2 linked regions of the Homo sapiens genome follow. The protein of the gene in region 1 interacts with the protein of each later gene in a pairwise test. Each region holds a gene or a part of one and is shown on either strand. Other genes may lie near its edges.

The links.
Region 2: the proteins of FAM149A (region 1) and TESC interact in a two-hybrid assay, tested with the Homo sapiens proteins (one large-scale study listed by IntAct).

Annotation. Positions count from the first base shown.
Region 1 is NC_000004.12:186,169,431-186,173,959, forward strand, and holds part of FAM149A (protein FAM149A), read left to right. Parts: intron 1-2,483; coding exon 2,484-2,557; 3' UTR 2,558-4,529.
Region 2 is NC_000012.12:117,039,335-117,044,796, forward strand, and holds part of TESC (calcineurin B homologous protein 3), read right to left. Parts: intron 2,661-5,462; coding exon 2,613-2,660; intron 1-2,612. UniProt on the Homo sapiens protein: Functions as an integral cofactor in cell pH regulation by controlling plasma membrane-type Na(+)/H(+) exchange activity. Promotes the maturation, transport, cell surface stability and exchange activity of SLC9A1/NHE1 at the plasma membrane.

The sequences.
Region 1 (4,529 bases):
CTCACACACGGATTTGAGCTTGGGAGCGGGAGGCCTAAGTCTTATCCCTCAAAAGTCTTGTCCCTCAAAAATGGAAAGCTCTTTCTTTCCTCCTGAGCACTCTGTCAACGTCAGCCCACCACGCTGCTCACACAGGGAGTCGCCTCTCTGGCCACCAGCTCAGGCAGCACACCACGATCTAATAGGACATTCAGGAATGAATTAAAAACCAGAGTGGATTCATGGTGACACCTTCGGCATATCACTCACTGCTTTCTGGAAGAGGAGGTGGGGGTAGAGCTGGTATCGGGGGACTGCAGTGACCCCCACTGGGGGCGTCCAGAGGAGTTACATTAACACGTGCAATCACATATGGCCACTTAACTCATGTAGGACCCAGGGAACGGTCCATGCCAGTCATCTGCGCCTCACTGCCTCTTAACTACTGACCCAAGACAAAAGAGCTATTAGAAGAGAGAATGCAGCCAACCAAATGCACAGCTCCAAGAGGTTTTGCATCTGTAACAACAAGCTAACATTTAGTTCTTTGGTTCAAAATATTTCCCCTCCTTAACCATTTTTTTAATGCTTCAAAGTTCATCCCCATTTGGGGAGTGGGAAGGGTATGTCCAGGCCCCCTCAGGATCAGGCTGGCTTTTCTTCCTTTCCACCAGGTGCACAGGCAAAACTGGCCACAGGGGACTCCCTGGAGCTCCATGCAGCTCGGCAGGGCCTGTGCAGTCCGGAAGGGAGGGCAGAGATGCCCAGGGCTGTAGGTGCCGGCCTGTGCAATCCGGAGGAGGCCATGCCTGGTGGTCGTGAGAGACACGGGCCTTGGCACGGAAGTCCTAGCTCTGCTGCTGGGTGCTGTGACACCAGGCATTCCCTGTGGGTCTCAGCTTCCATACCTGTAAAATGGGAATAACACCTCACTTAAGGACTCCTGAAATAAAACACGGAGCAGATAACGCAGTGCCTGGTGCATAACAAGCCTCAACATATCCAAGGACTCATCCTGATCACCCATGAGCCTACTTAAGGTCAACCCTGCCTCATTTAAAAAACAAAACAAGACTGTGCCTTCAAGTTCAGGTAGGGGTGGCCCTGTCCGGGGCCAACCCCCGCCTAGAACCAGCCAGGCTTGTGCTGCTGGAGAGGAATGGCCAAGCCAAGGCACTCGGGACCAGCACTGAGCAGCCTGGTGAGCTCTAAGCCCGCAGAGCAGGCAGGGCCCCCGACAGGCAGGTGGTGTGCAGGGGTCCCTGGGGCACCAAGGGACAGGAAACCTCAGGAGAAGGAGGCCCTTTCACCCGCCAAAGTGGAACCTTCCCCACTGAACACCGGATCTCCCAGCACTGTCTGACCTTCAGTCACATTTTAAACACTGAACAGAGGGACAGAGGGACCTGTGTTCCTTGATGTTTCATCTTTGTTCATCCATCGGTCGTCCTCCAAACCAAAGTCCAGAAGCTTCTGCACTAATTTCGAAGTCAGGCTGAACCTTGAGTCATGAACAAAACTCTTTCAATTTTCCTCTAAGTCTTCATGGAGCTCATCATAAGCAGGATCCTCATAAAGGAATTTCTGAATCATTCCAATCAGTGATTCTAAGAACCACATCTTTCTGCGGTCCTTCTGAGTGGCCCAGCTGTGCAAGAGACATCCCCATGCAAAAGCAAAGCCTTGATAGCACCTGATCTCAGGCCGGATGTTGGCTCCGTGCACCCTGCGGTGCTGCCTTCCTTCAGTGACGCCCACGCTCCTGCCTTCCTCCCAGCCTTCCTGATGCCCTTCCCCATGTAACCCCGCATCCGCCTTCATGATGGCATCCAACACGGCCCGGCTCCCAGGGTCAGGCCCAGACGCACCGCTTCAGAGGATGAGCTCTTATCAGGAACTCTGAGACAGCTACTATTGATGGTCAGAGGTCTTTTCTATATCTGCAGAAGTGATCGAGGGTCCATAAGAGGGATCTTCCTGTCTTTCTGAGGGTTTGTTTTCTTTTTCTCTGACAAGCAGGCACATGACCTCCTTGCTACCTTTGCGTCCAGGTCAAAAAGCACTGGGAACTACTAACTTATCAACTTTTATTATTTCTGTGATAGAAAAAAAAAGGAGCCAAAGGGGTATTCCAGGTAGTGGGAAGGATCCCTTAAAGTACCTGGCATTGCACCTGCCCCTGGGAAGCAGGAGAGCTGCCAGGAAGTAGTGCTCCCTCAGCCTCCTGGGCCAGGACCCGCCTCTGCATGGAAGCTTCTCGTGAATCCACCAGCTCGGGAGGACGCGTGGCCTGCACCTCCGCTTGATTTTGGGGGAGCACACTTCCTTTTCCTTAGGACCCTAATAGGCAGTTTTTGCATATGACTATTTCCTAATTTATACAAAAGTGTATTAAAATAAAATATATATTTTAAAGTATTTGCATGGAGTGTACAAAACAATCGTTCTGAGTGGGTGCCTTTGTAACATTTTAATGAGAATTACCTTTTGCTTGGTGTTTCCAGGTTCACAATATGTGCCTAAATCTTTTCAGAGGACAACTTTGACTTTCAAGAGGAGATTCCAAGTGACATCTTGAAACCACCTCACCAGAACCATTGGAGCACCTGTGGCCTCGGCACACTGCTTATCACTTGAAAAATGGAGGAACAAGTGTTATATTTATCTGTGTGTCTGACAGTGTGAGATGTTAGACCGAGAGAAAAGCAAACAAATAAATCACTTAATCTTGAACACTTTGCACTGTAAAGAGAGTGAAAGTCAAACCCACCAAGCTGCCTTGCTGAAAGCATCTCCAAGGTTCTGTAGGCTTTGTTCAGAAGCCCCTGATGTGTGTTTGCAGTCCGTCATTTTATCAATGATACGCAAACATAATTAGCATGTGTATGTACTCACACACTAATTACATGTAAGAATATATTATCTAGGAATATGTCATTTGTAACTTTGTACTCTGACGTATTTTCTAGTCTCACCCTATTAGTAATTCTGTCAAAATCCTAGACGCTAGTAGATATTAGTATTTGAGACAATATGTCAGAGTCTGAATAAGACTCAGCTTGTTCTAGTCATGCTGAGTTTCTCATATATTTTTTAAAAGTGCTTCCGCCATGAACCTCTTTGAGAAATGTCAGTGGCAAAATCTCCCAAGCTAATTTTCTTTTTCTATGTTCCATCTTCAAATTCAGACAGTTCACGTGAAGTACCCCACATTTATTGATCTTAGGGTTGAATATAAACGCAATTAAAAGCTATGGCAGGTGATGTCATCTTTATTGTTTACAGTCGAAGCTCCTCCATGGGAGGGGAGCCTCCCACCCTCCACGTGCCATCAGGAGCTGGCCTTTGCCCAGACGCCACCACTGCAATGACACCTTCCCAGAGCCCTCGTCTCCTCGCGCTCTGTCCTGCTCTGCCTGGCTTTTCTTCAGAGTGTGTTTCCCCATCTGACATTACTGTAGAAAATGGAGCAGAGAACAGGAAGGGGAATTAGCAGAGATGAGGCTCCAGGCATGTCTTCCTCTTGTCCCTCTCCCCACTGTTTCTCTTGATTGTGATTCAAGTCCTTACACTCATTTTTACATTCTCAAATCTCAAATCAGCTAATTTCCTCTTTTCTATCAGATAATTGCATTTCATCAGTCTAATTTTTACTAATCCAAACTGTAACTTTATAAGGCTATATATATGAGCATATTTATAAACTTAGATTTATAAACTATATACACACATATATGTATCATATAAATGCATAATAAATTACTTTCAGACTATTTCTGGCTGTAAGGAGAAGGGATCATTGCCTACTAGTAGATGTCTGAAATTTTAAAAGATGTGTTGAGACTAACATTAATGTTGTCCTTTATCACAGGGTGACAAAAATGACCCAGAGCCTTGCCTCTGTTTGAAAATTTCTCCTTGACTTTGCTGACTCCATTTCTTTTTTCTTTTCTTTTTTTTTGAAACGGAGTCTGGCTCTGTGGCCCCGGCTGGAGTGCAGTGGCACGATCTCGGCTCACTACAACCTCCACCTCCTGGGCTCAAGCGATTCTCCTGCTTCAGCCTCCTGGGTAGCTAGGATTACAGGTGCATGCCACCACACCCAGCTAAATTTTTTTTGTATTTTTAGTAGAGGCAGGGTTTCACCATGTTAGCCAGGCCGGTGTTGAACTCCTGACCTCAGGTGATCTGCCCACCTCGGCCTCCCAAAGTGCTGGGATTATAGGCGTGAGCTTCCGCGCCTGGCCAGCTGACTCCATTTCTATAGCAATGAGACACATTAGGCAGCAGCAGCAGCAGCAGCAGCAGCGACCACCAGGTCCATGCCTCTTTTCCGTGGTCACAGCTCCATGTGTCCGGGGAAGATTGCTAATGCTTAGTTTCCTGCACAAAGCAAACCAAAGCATTTTTGAGAATTTTCTACATTATTCCTAAACATTAGCAATAGAAACTTTTAAGAGCAAATGCCAGTCTTAATTCAGCAGCTCTCCCACTTGAGGAATAGTTAGATATGTGAGTAGCCTGGAGCCCATGTTATAGGGCTGCTGGTT
Region 2 (5,462 bases), on another chromosome or scaffold:
TGAAAACCAGAGGGCTGTGTTTCAAGACTATGAGCTAAGCGAGGACGAAAAACTTCCATCTGTCTTTTTTGCTGGTTAATTTGGCTCTGACATTTGGATTCTTTCTGAGATTGTCACAGCAAGTTATTATTAAGTACTGAATCCAAGCTCTTAGCTCCAAGGCATTTGAATCTCACCCACCACTTCAGGTTCTGTGATTTTCATGCAAATTACATAACCCCATTAAGTCCCCTTCCCCAACCTGTGCCGCCCACTTCACAGAACGTTGGGGGCTCTAATGGACCCGTCCTCATCATGGACGCGTTTTGTAAACTGTTAGGGGCTGTGCGGTCACAAGGCTTCGCTAGGCCATCGTCATCAATTTAAGGATCTCCACAGTGTGGTCTTTACAACCTCCCTGGGATAAGGGATCACGTGCATTCTAGAAAGACAAACTCAAGCCCAAAAAGGTCATTTCTACCCAAAGATCACATGGTGGCCCCATTCCTGGTGCTGGTACTGCTGTTACAGTCCAGCCTGGCCAGAACCTTGGAGTGGGCCTTCGTGCTACAAGGCCATGTATGTACCCCAGTGCTCCCAAGGCTATGCCCGCCAGCGCCTTAGCAAGTCAGGGCCCACGGGGGCCACAGATGGTAGGATGGGGGGGTGCCAACAGGAACGGAGGGACGTGGTGGGCGGGTGACTTCTCACTGCTTCCCGCTTATGTAAGAATCAAACTCTCAAGCTGTCACTCTCAGCATCTCCGGGGACAGCCACGAGGCTGGTAACGGGGGAAAGTCAGAGCCCCGTGGGCACCCAGGCGACAGGGAGGCCTTGGGACATTTCCGGCCGCAGCCCCCAGGTACTTCCTGCTTTCCTGAGCCTGTTCTGGGTGTCATGGGGTGTGCAAAGACAGCTCTGGTCCCAGTCGAGCGGCCCCATCCTTGCTGGATGCACGAGGCATTCCCAGGGTAACACGCATGGACACTCACGGTGGTTTCTGCTAAGTGCCAGGTGGCAACATGGTCGCTGAGGGCATTGGAAGGAATCAGGGAATGGGAAGGGCCAGCTGGTCCCAAAAGATCCCTCAGGGGTACAGGGACAGGCTTGGGGAGCACTAGGGGCCTGGCAGAGGCCAGCCTTTAGGGGAAGGAAGTTGGTTTCGGAGGCAAAGAAATTCATTCTACTCAGCCTGAAGCAGCGATACTTCCTCCCCAACCCTCCCTCCCTCCTCCACCTTCTAGCTCTTCATTCTGTTGTCTTGCTCTGGCGGGCGTCACCTTCTCTGGTGACCGGGTCCCCAGCATAGGCCAGAGTGAGTCTGAAGCACAAGTGCAAATTCTGCCTTTTCCCAGTCTGCCCGCCCTGCCAGCCCCGGGGTGGGCCATCTGCACGGCAGTCCACGGGGCCTGCCGACCTCCGCAGTCTCCTTTCAGCCTTTCATCACAGCCAGGCCCTGCTGCCTGCCTCTCCTCTCTCCTGCCGGTTCTAACCGTTGGCTGCCAGGCTTGGCCTCGGCTCCATGGGGCTGTGACCCTGAGGGCCCAGTCCCCCAGTCCTGCTCTAGGCTCCTTGGCCAGAAGCCGTGATCCTTCCTTCCCTAATCCTCTCTCCTCTCTTGGTCTCTTGCTCCCCTGACTTCCTTGTCTTCCTCAAGTACCCCAAAAGCACTTGGGAACACTGTTGTGATGCCCAGGGCCGAACTGCGGGGAGGGGGATGGGGGGAGGGGGATGGGGACAGGGGTCCTCTCCCTGCCACAGGGCATCTGATTATCAAAACGGCCAGGAGCAGGTCTTGATTTGCAAGGCCAGCACTGGCCTAACCACCATCCACTAGCAGAGGCTGGAGGAGCCATCAGGGAGGAGGGCAGAGTGGGCGGCCGCTTTACGAAAGTGTCATTTTAGGACACAGCGAGGAAGGCCCGGGCGCAACGTGTGCAGTCAGCTCCAAACTGAGCTTCCGAGAAACACTATTTCTAAAGACACAGAAAGTTCCCAGAATCCCTGTTCCAACTACAACAGGGCCTTTTTTTTTTTGAGATGGGGTCTCACTCTATCACCCAGGATGGAGTACAGTGGCGCAATCTCAGCTTACTGCAACCTCTACCTCCTGGATTCAAGCGATCCTCCCGCCTCTGCCTCCCGAGTAGCTGGGATTACAGGCGCCTGCCACCACGCTTGGCTAAGTTTTGTATTTTTAGTAGAGATGGGGTTTCACCATGTTGGTCAAGCTGGTCTCGAACTCCTGACGTCAGGTGATCTGCCCGCCTCAGCCTCCCAACGTGCTGGGATTACAGGCATGAGCCACCGCGCCCAGCCTACAACGGGGGTTACTTCTGAGAAGCGGCAGTGGGACCGCAGGTGGGAGAGAATTTGGTTTACACTATATACCCTTTTGTACTGCTTACATTGTTTTGACTACGTGTGAATATTACCTTTTCCATAAAAATAAGAAAAACCAGTTTAAATTGCTTTAAAGGCCATGCCCAGGTTGACCCCTTCCTACTGAGATGTTGGTCACCCAGGAAGCCTGTCCCTTGCTACTGCAGGTAAAGAGCCATGTCCCCTCCTGACCAGTGGGCCACACGAGGTCTTCAAGGGTCCCCCGAGGCTCCCACGCCCAGGCCACCCACCTTCAGGAAGTCCTCGAAGGTGATCCCCTCGTACACCTGATCAGGCTCCTGGGGACGGAAGCACAGGGTGGACAGTGAGTGGCGCAGGTCCCCACACAGCTTCCGCAGGGGGACGGTCCACTGGCCTCCCCTCCCCACCAATACCCAAATGTAAGTTGTTGAGGCTGTTTGGGAGGAATCACAAGAAGAGGAGAACGTTCTGGATCGTCTGCCTCCAGCATGGAGCCGGTCACCCTGAACCTCCAATATCCTCATTCATGGGCTTGAGGGTGGGATGGGAGCCGAGCGTCGCTCACCAGGGCCCTGGCAACGTGTGGCTCAGAGCAGCCTCCCTCCCCTCCCCCAGCCCCCCAGGGAGAATCCGAGGTGTGGGTGACATGAGGGCATGGGGCTCTCCTTCCCCACTCAGCCCACCTCACCACCAGCCCCCCAGCAGCTGGACCACCAAGATGCCTCCTGTACCCGCCTAGGTCTGGCCTCCTCATGCCTGCGCTGTGCTGATAAGAAGATTCCAGGCTAATCTAAGCTCACAGACCTCAGGGGAGAGGTCAGGGAAACACAGGGCCAGCCTGTGAGGCCCACGCCTCATGCCTCGTGAGTCACCGTGATAACTCAGGGCCACTGGGGAGGGCAGGGCCAGAGGGTGGCCACAAGGAGCCTCTCCCTGCTGAGTGGGTTTGGCGATGCCAGTCTCCATCGCCTCTGCGTCCTCCCTGCTCTGGGGATGACACCAGGTGCTCCTGCCCCTTTCACCGATACTCCAGGATCCCACCGACAAGCCTCCAAAAACCTCACCCTGCAGCTCGCTTTGTGACAGCGAAAACCCGCTGACATCCCAGGTGCCCGTCAATAGAAGGCGAGGGACATAAATCTCGGTCATCCACGCTATTGATTCCCACGCAACCATTAACCATTTATGCCTAGTGTTCCATTACTGGAACGCTAAGCTGTGGGAGTTACTTATATCCTACTGGTCAAGGTCATCGCCAAGGTCTGATTGCAAAAATTGAAAAAGCTGCAACCTCAGGCAAAAATGGGTTAAGAAGGGGTTGATCTGTATGTCTCACTCTGGAAAAGGCTCTGAGATGTGTACCCAGCAGATAAAGAACAAAAAACAAAACCCAACAAGCAGAAAGATGTCTGCAGGTCTGTGCACGCAAACCTTTCCTCAGACTGATAACCAGACCCCCACCATCTGCCCTGTGGGTGTGTGGGGTCATACGGAGAAAATGGGAAGCCACATCGGTTCGATTATGTTTTGCATACATCAAAAATAAAAGACATGCATGTATACATTGGTATATGTAGGAAAAAAACCACCGAGAGGGAGTCCCTTTAGGGAAGAGGACCTGGGCTGGTGGGGGAGCAGGAGAGGCTCAAAGCTCTCTCTGTGACTGTCTGAAATTCTGTACAACGTGTGTTTAAGAACACAGGAGGCACACTCTAAGCATGTTATGCACCAGGCATGTATGTCCCAAGTGCCTTCCAAGTGGTATTGTTTTGTTTTCATTTGTTTTGTTTTGTTTTTGAGACAGAGTCTCGCTCTGTTGCCCAGGCTGGAGGAGTGCAGTGGCGCGATCTTGGCTCACTGTGACCTCTGCCTCCCAGGTTCAAGTGATTCTCTTGCCTCAGACTCCCAAGTAGCTGGGATTATTACAGGCATGTACCACCATGCGTGGCTAATTTTTTAAATTTTTTAGCAGAGACAGGGGTTTCACCATGTTAGCCAGGCTGGTCTCGAACTCCTGACCTCAAGCAATCCAACCGCCTGGGGCTCCCAAAGTGCTGGGATTACAGGTGTGACCAAATGCTATTGTTAGCATTTAATGATAGATGCCAATCTCACAACCGGCCCTGAGTTGGGTTCTAGTCTCTCTCCTGTATTACAGATGAGGGACACAGAGGGAGCTGCCTGTCCAGCTGGGAGCATCTAGCTGCCTCCAAGTCCTTGAGGGCTGTTTCTACTGGCAGGACTTTGCAGGCTCTTTAGTTTCCTCTTTATACTTAAAAAAATTTTGGCCAGGCACAGTGGTTCACATCTGTCATCCCAGCACTTTGGGAGGCCAAGGCAGGAGGACTGTTGGAGGCCAGGAGTTCGAGACCAGACTGGTCAACATAATGACATCTCTTTTTAGCAAAACATCTCTTTTTTAAAAAACTTTTAAAAATTAGCTGGGTGTGGTGGTGTACACCTGTAGTCCCAGCTGCTCCAGAGGCTGAGGTAGGAGGATGGCTTGAGCGCAGGAGATGGAAGCCGTAGTGAGCTATGATCACACCACTGTACCACTGCACTCCAGTTGGGGCGACAGAACGAGACCCTGTCTCTTAAAAAATAAATAATAAATTAAAAAAAAAATGAAACCCAGCAGTTCTCGGCTAGCCTGGGCCAGCCCTGTCCCTAATGGCTCCTTCCTCCCTGTCTTCCCACTCACGGGCACAGTGGCTGCCCTCCCTGCCGGGCCTCCCTAGGTTCCCAGGCTGGCCAAGGGGAGCTAATTATAGAAAAGGCCCCCATGGCCAGAGTCTGGGGCTGGAAAGGGGGTGATCGGTGCAAGGAAGGAGGGCGGGGAGTTGGGGGAAGCAGCCCCGGCTGAATGCCCAGTGAAGCAGTCCCCCCATCAAGCATCCATGGGTGTGACCTCCTGAGAAAGCACTCTCAAAAGATCCACAGGCCGGCGCGACGGCTCATGCCTGGAATCCCAGCACTTTGGGAGACCAAGGTGGGTGGATCACTTGAGGTCAGGAGTTCGAGACCAGCTGGCCAGCATGGTGAAACCCCGTCTCTGCTAAAAATACAAAAATTAGCCGGGCGTAGTGGCACACGCCTGTAATTCCAGCTACTCGGGAGGC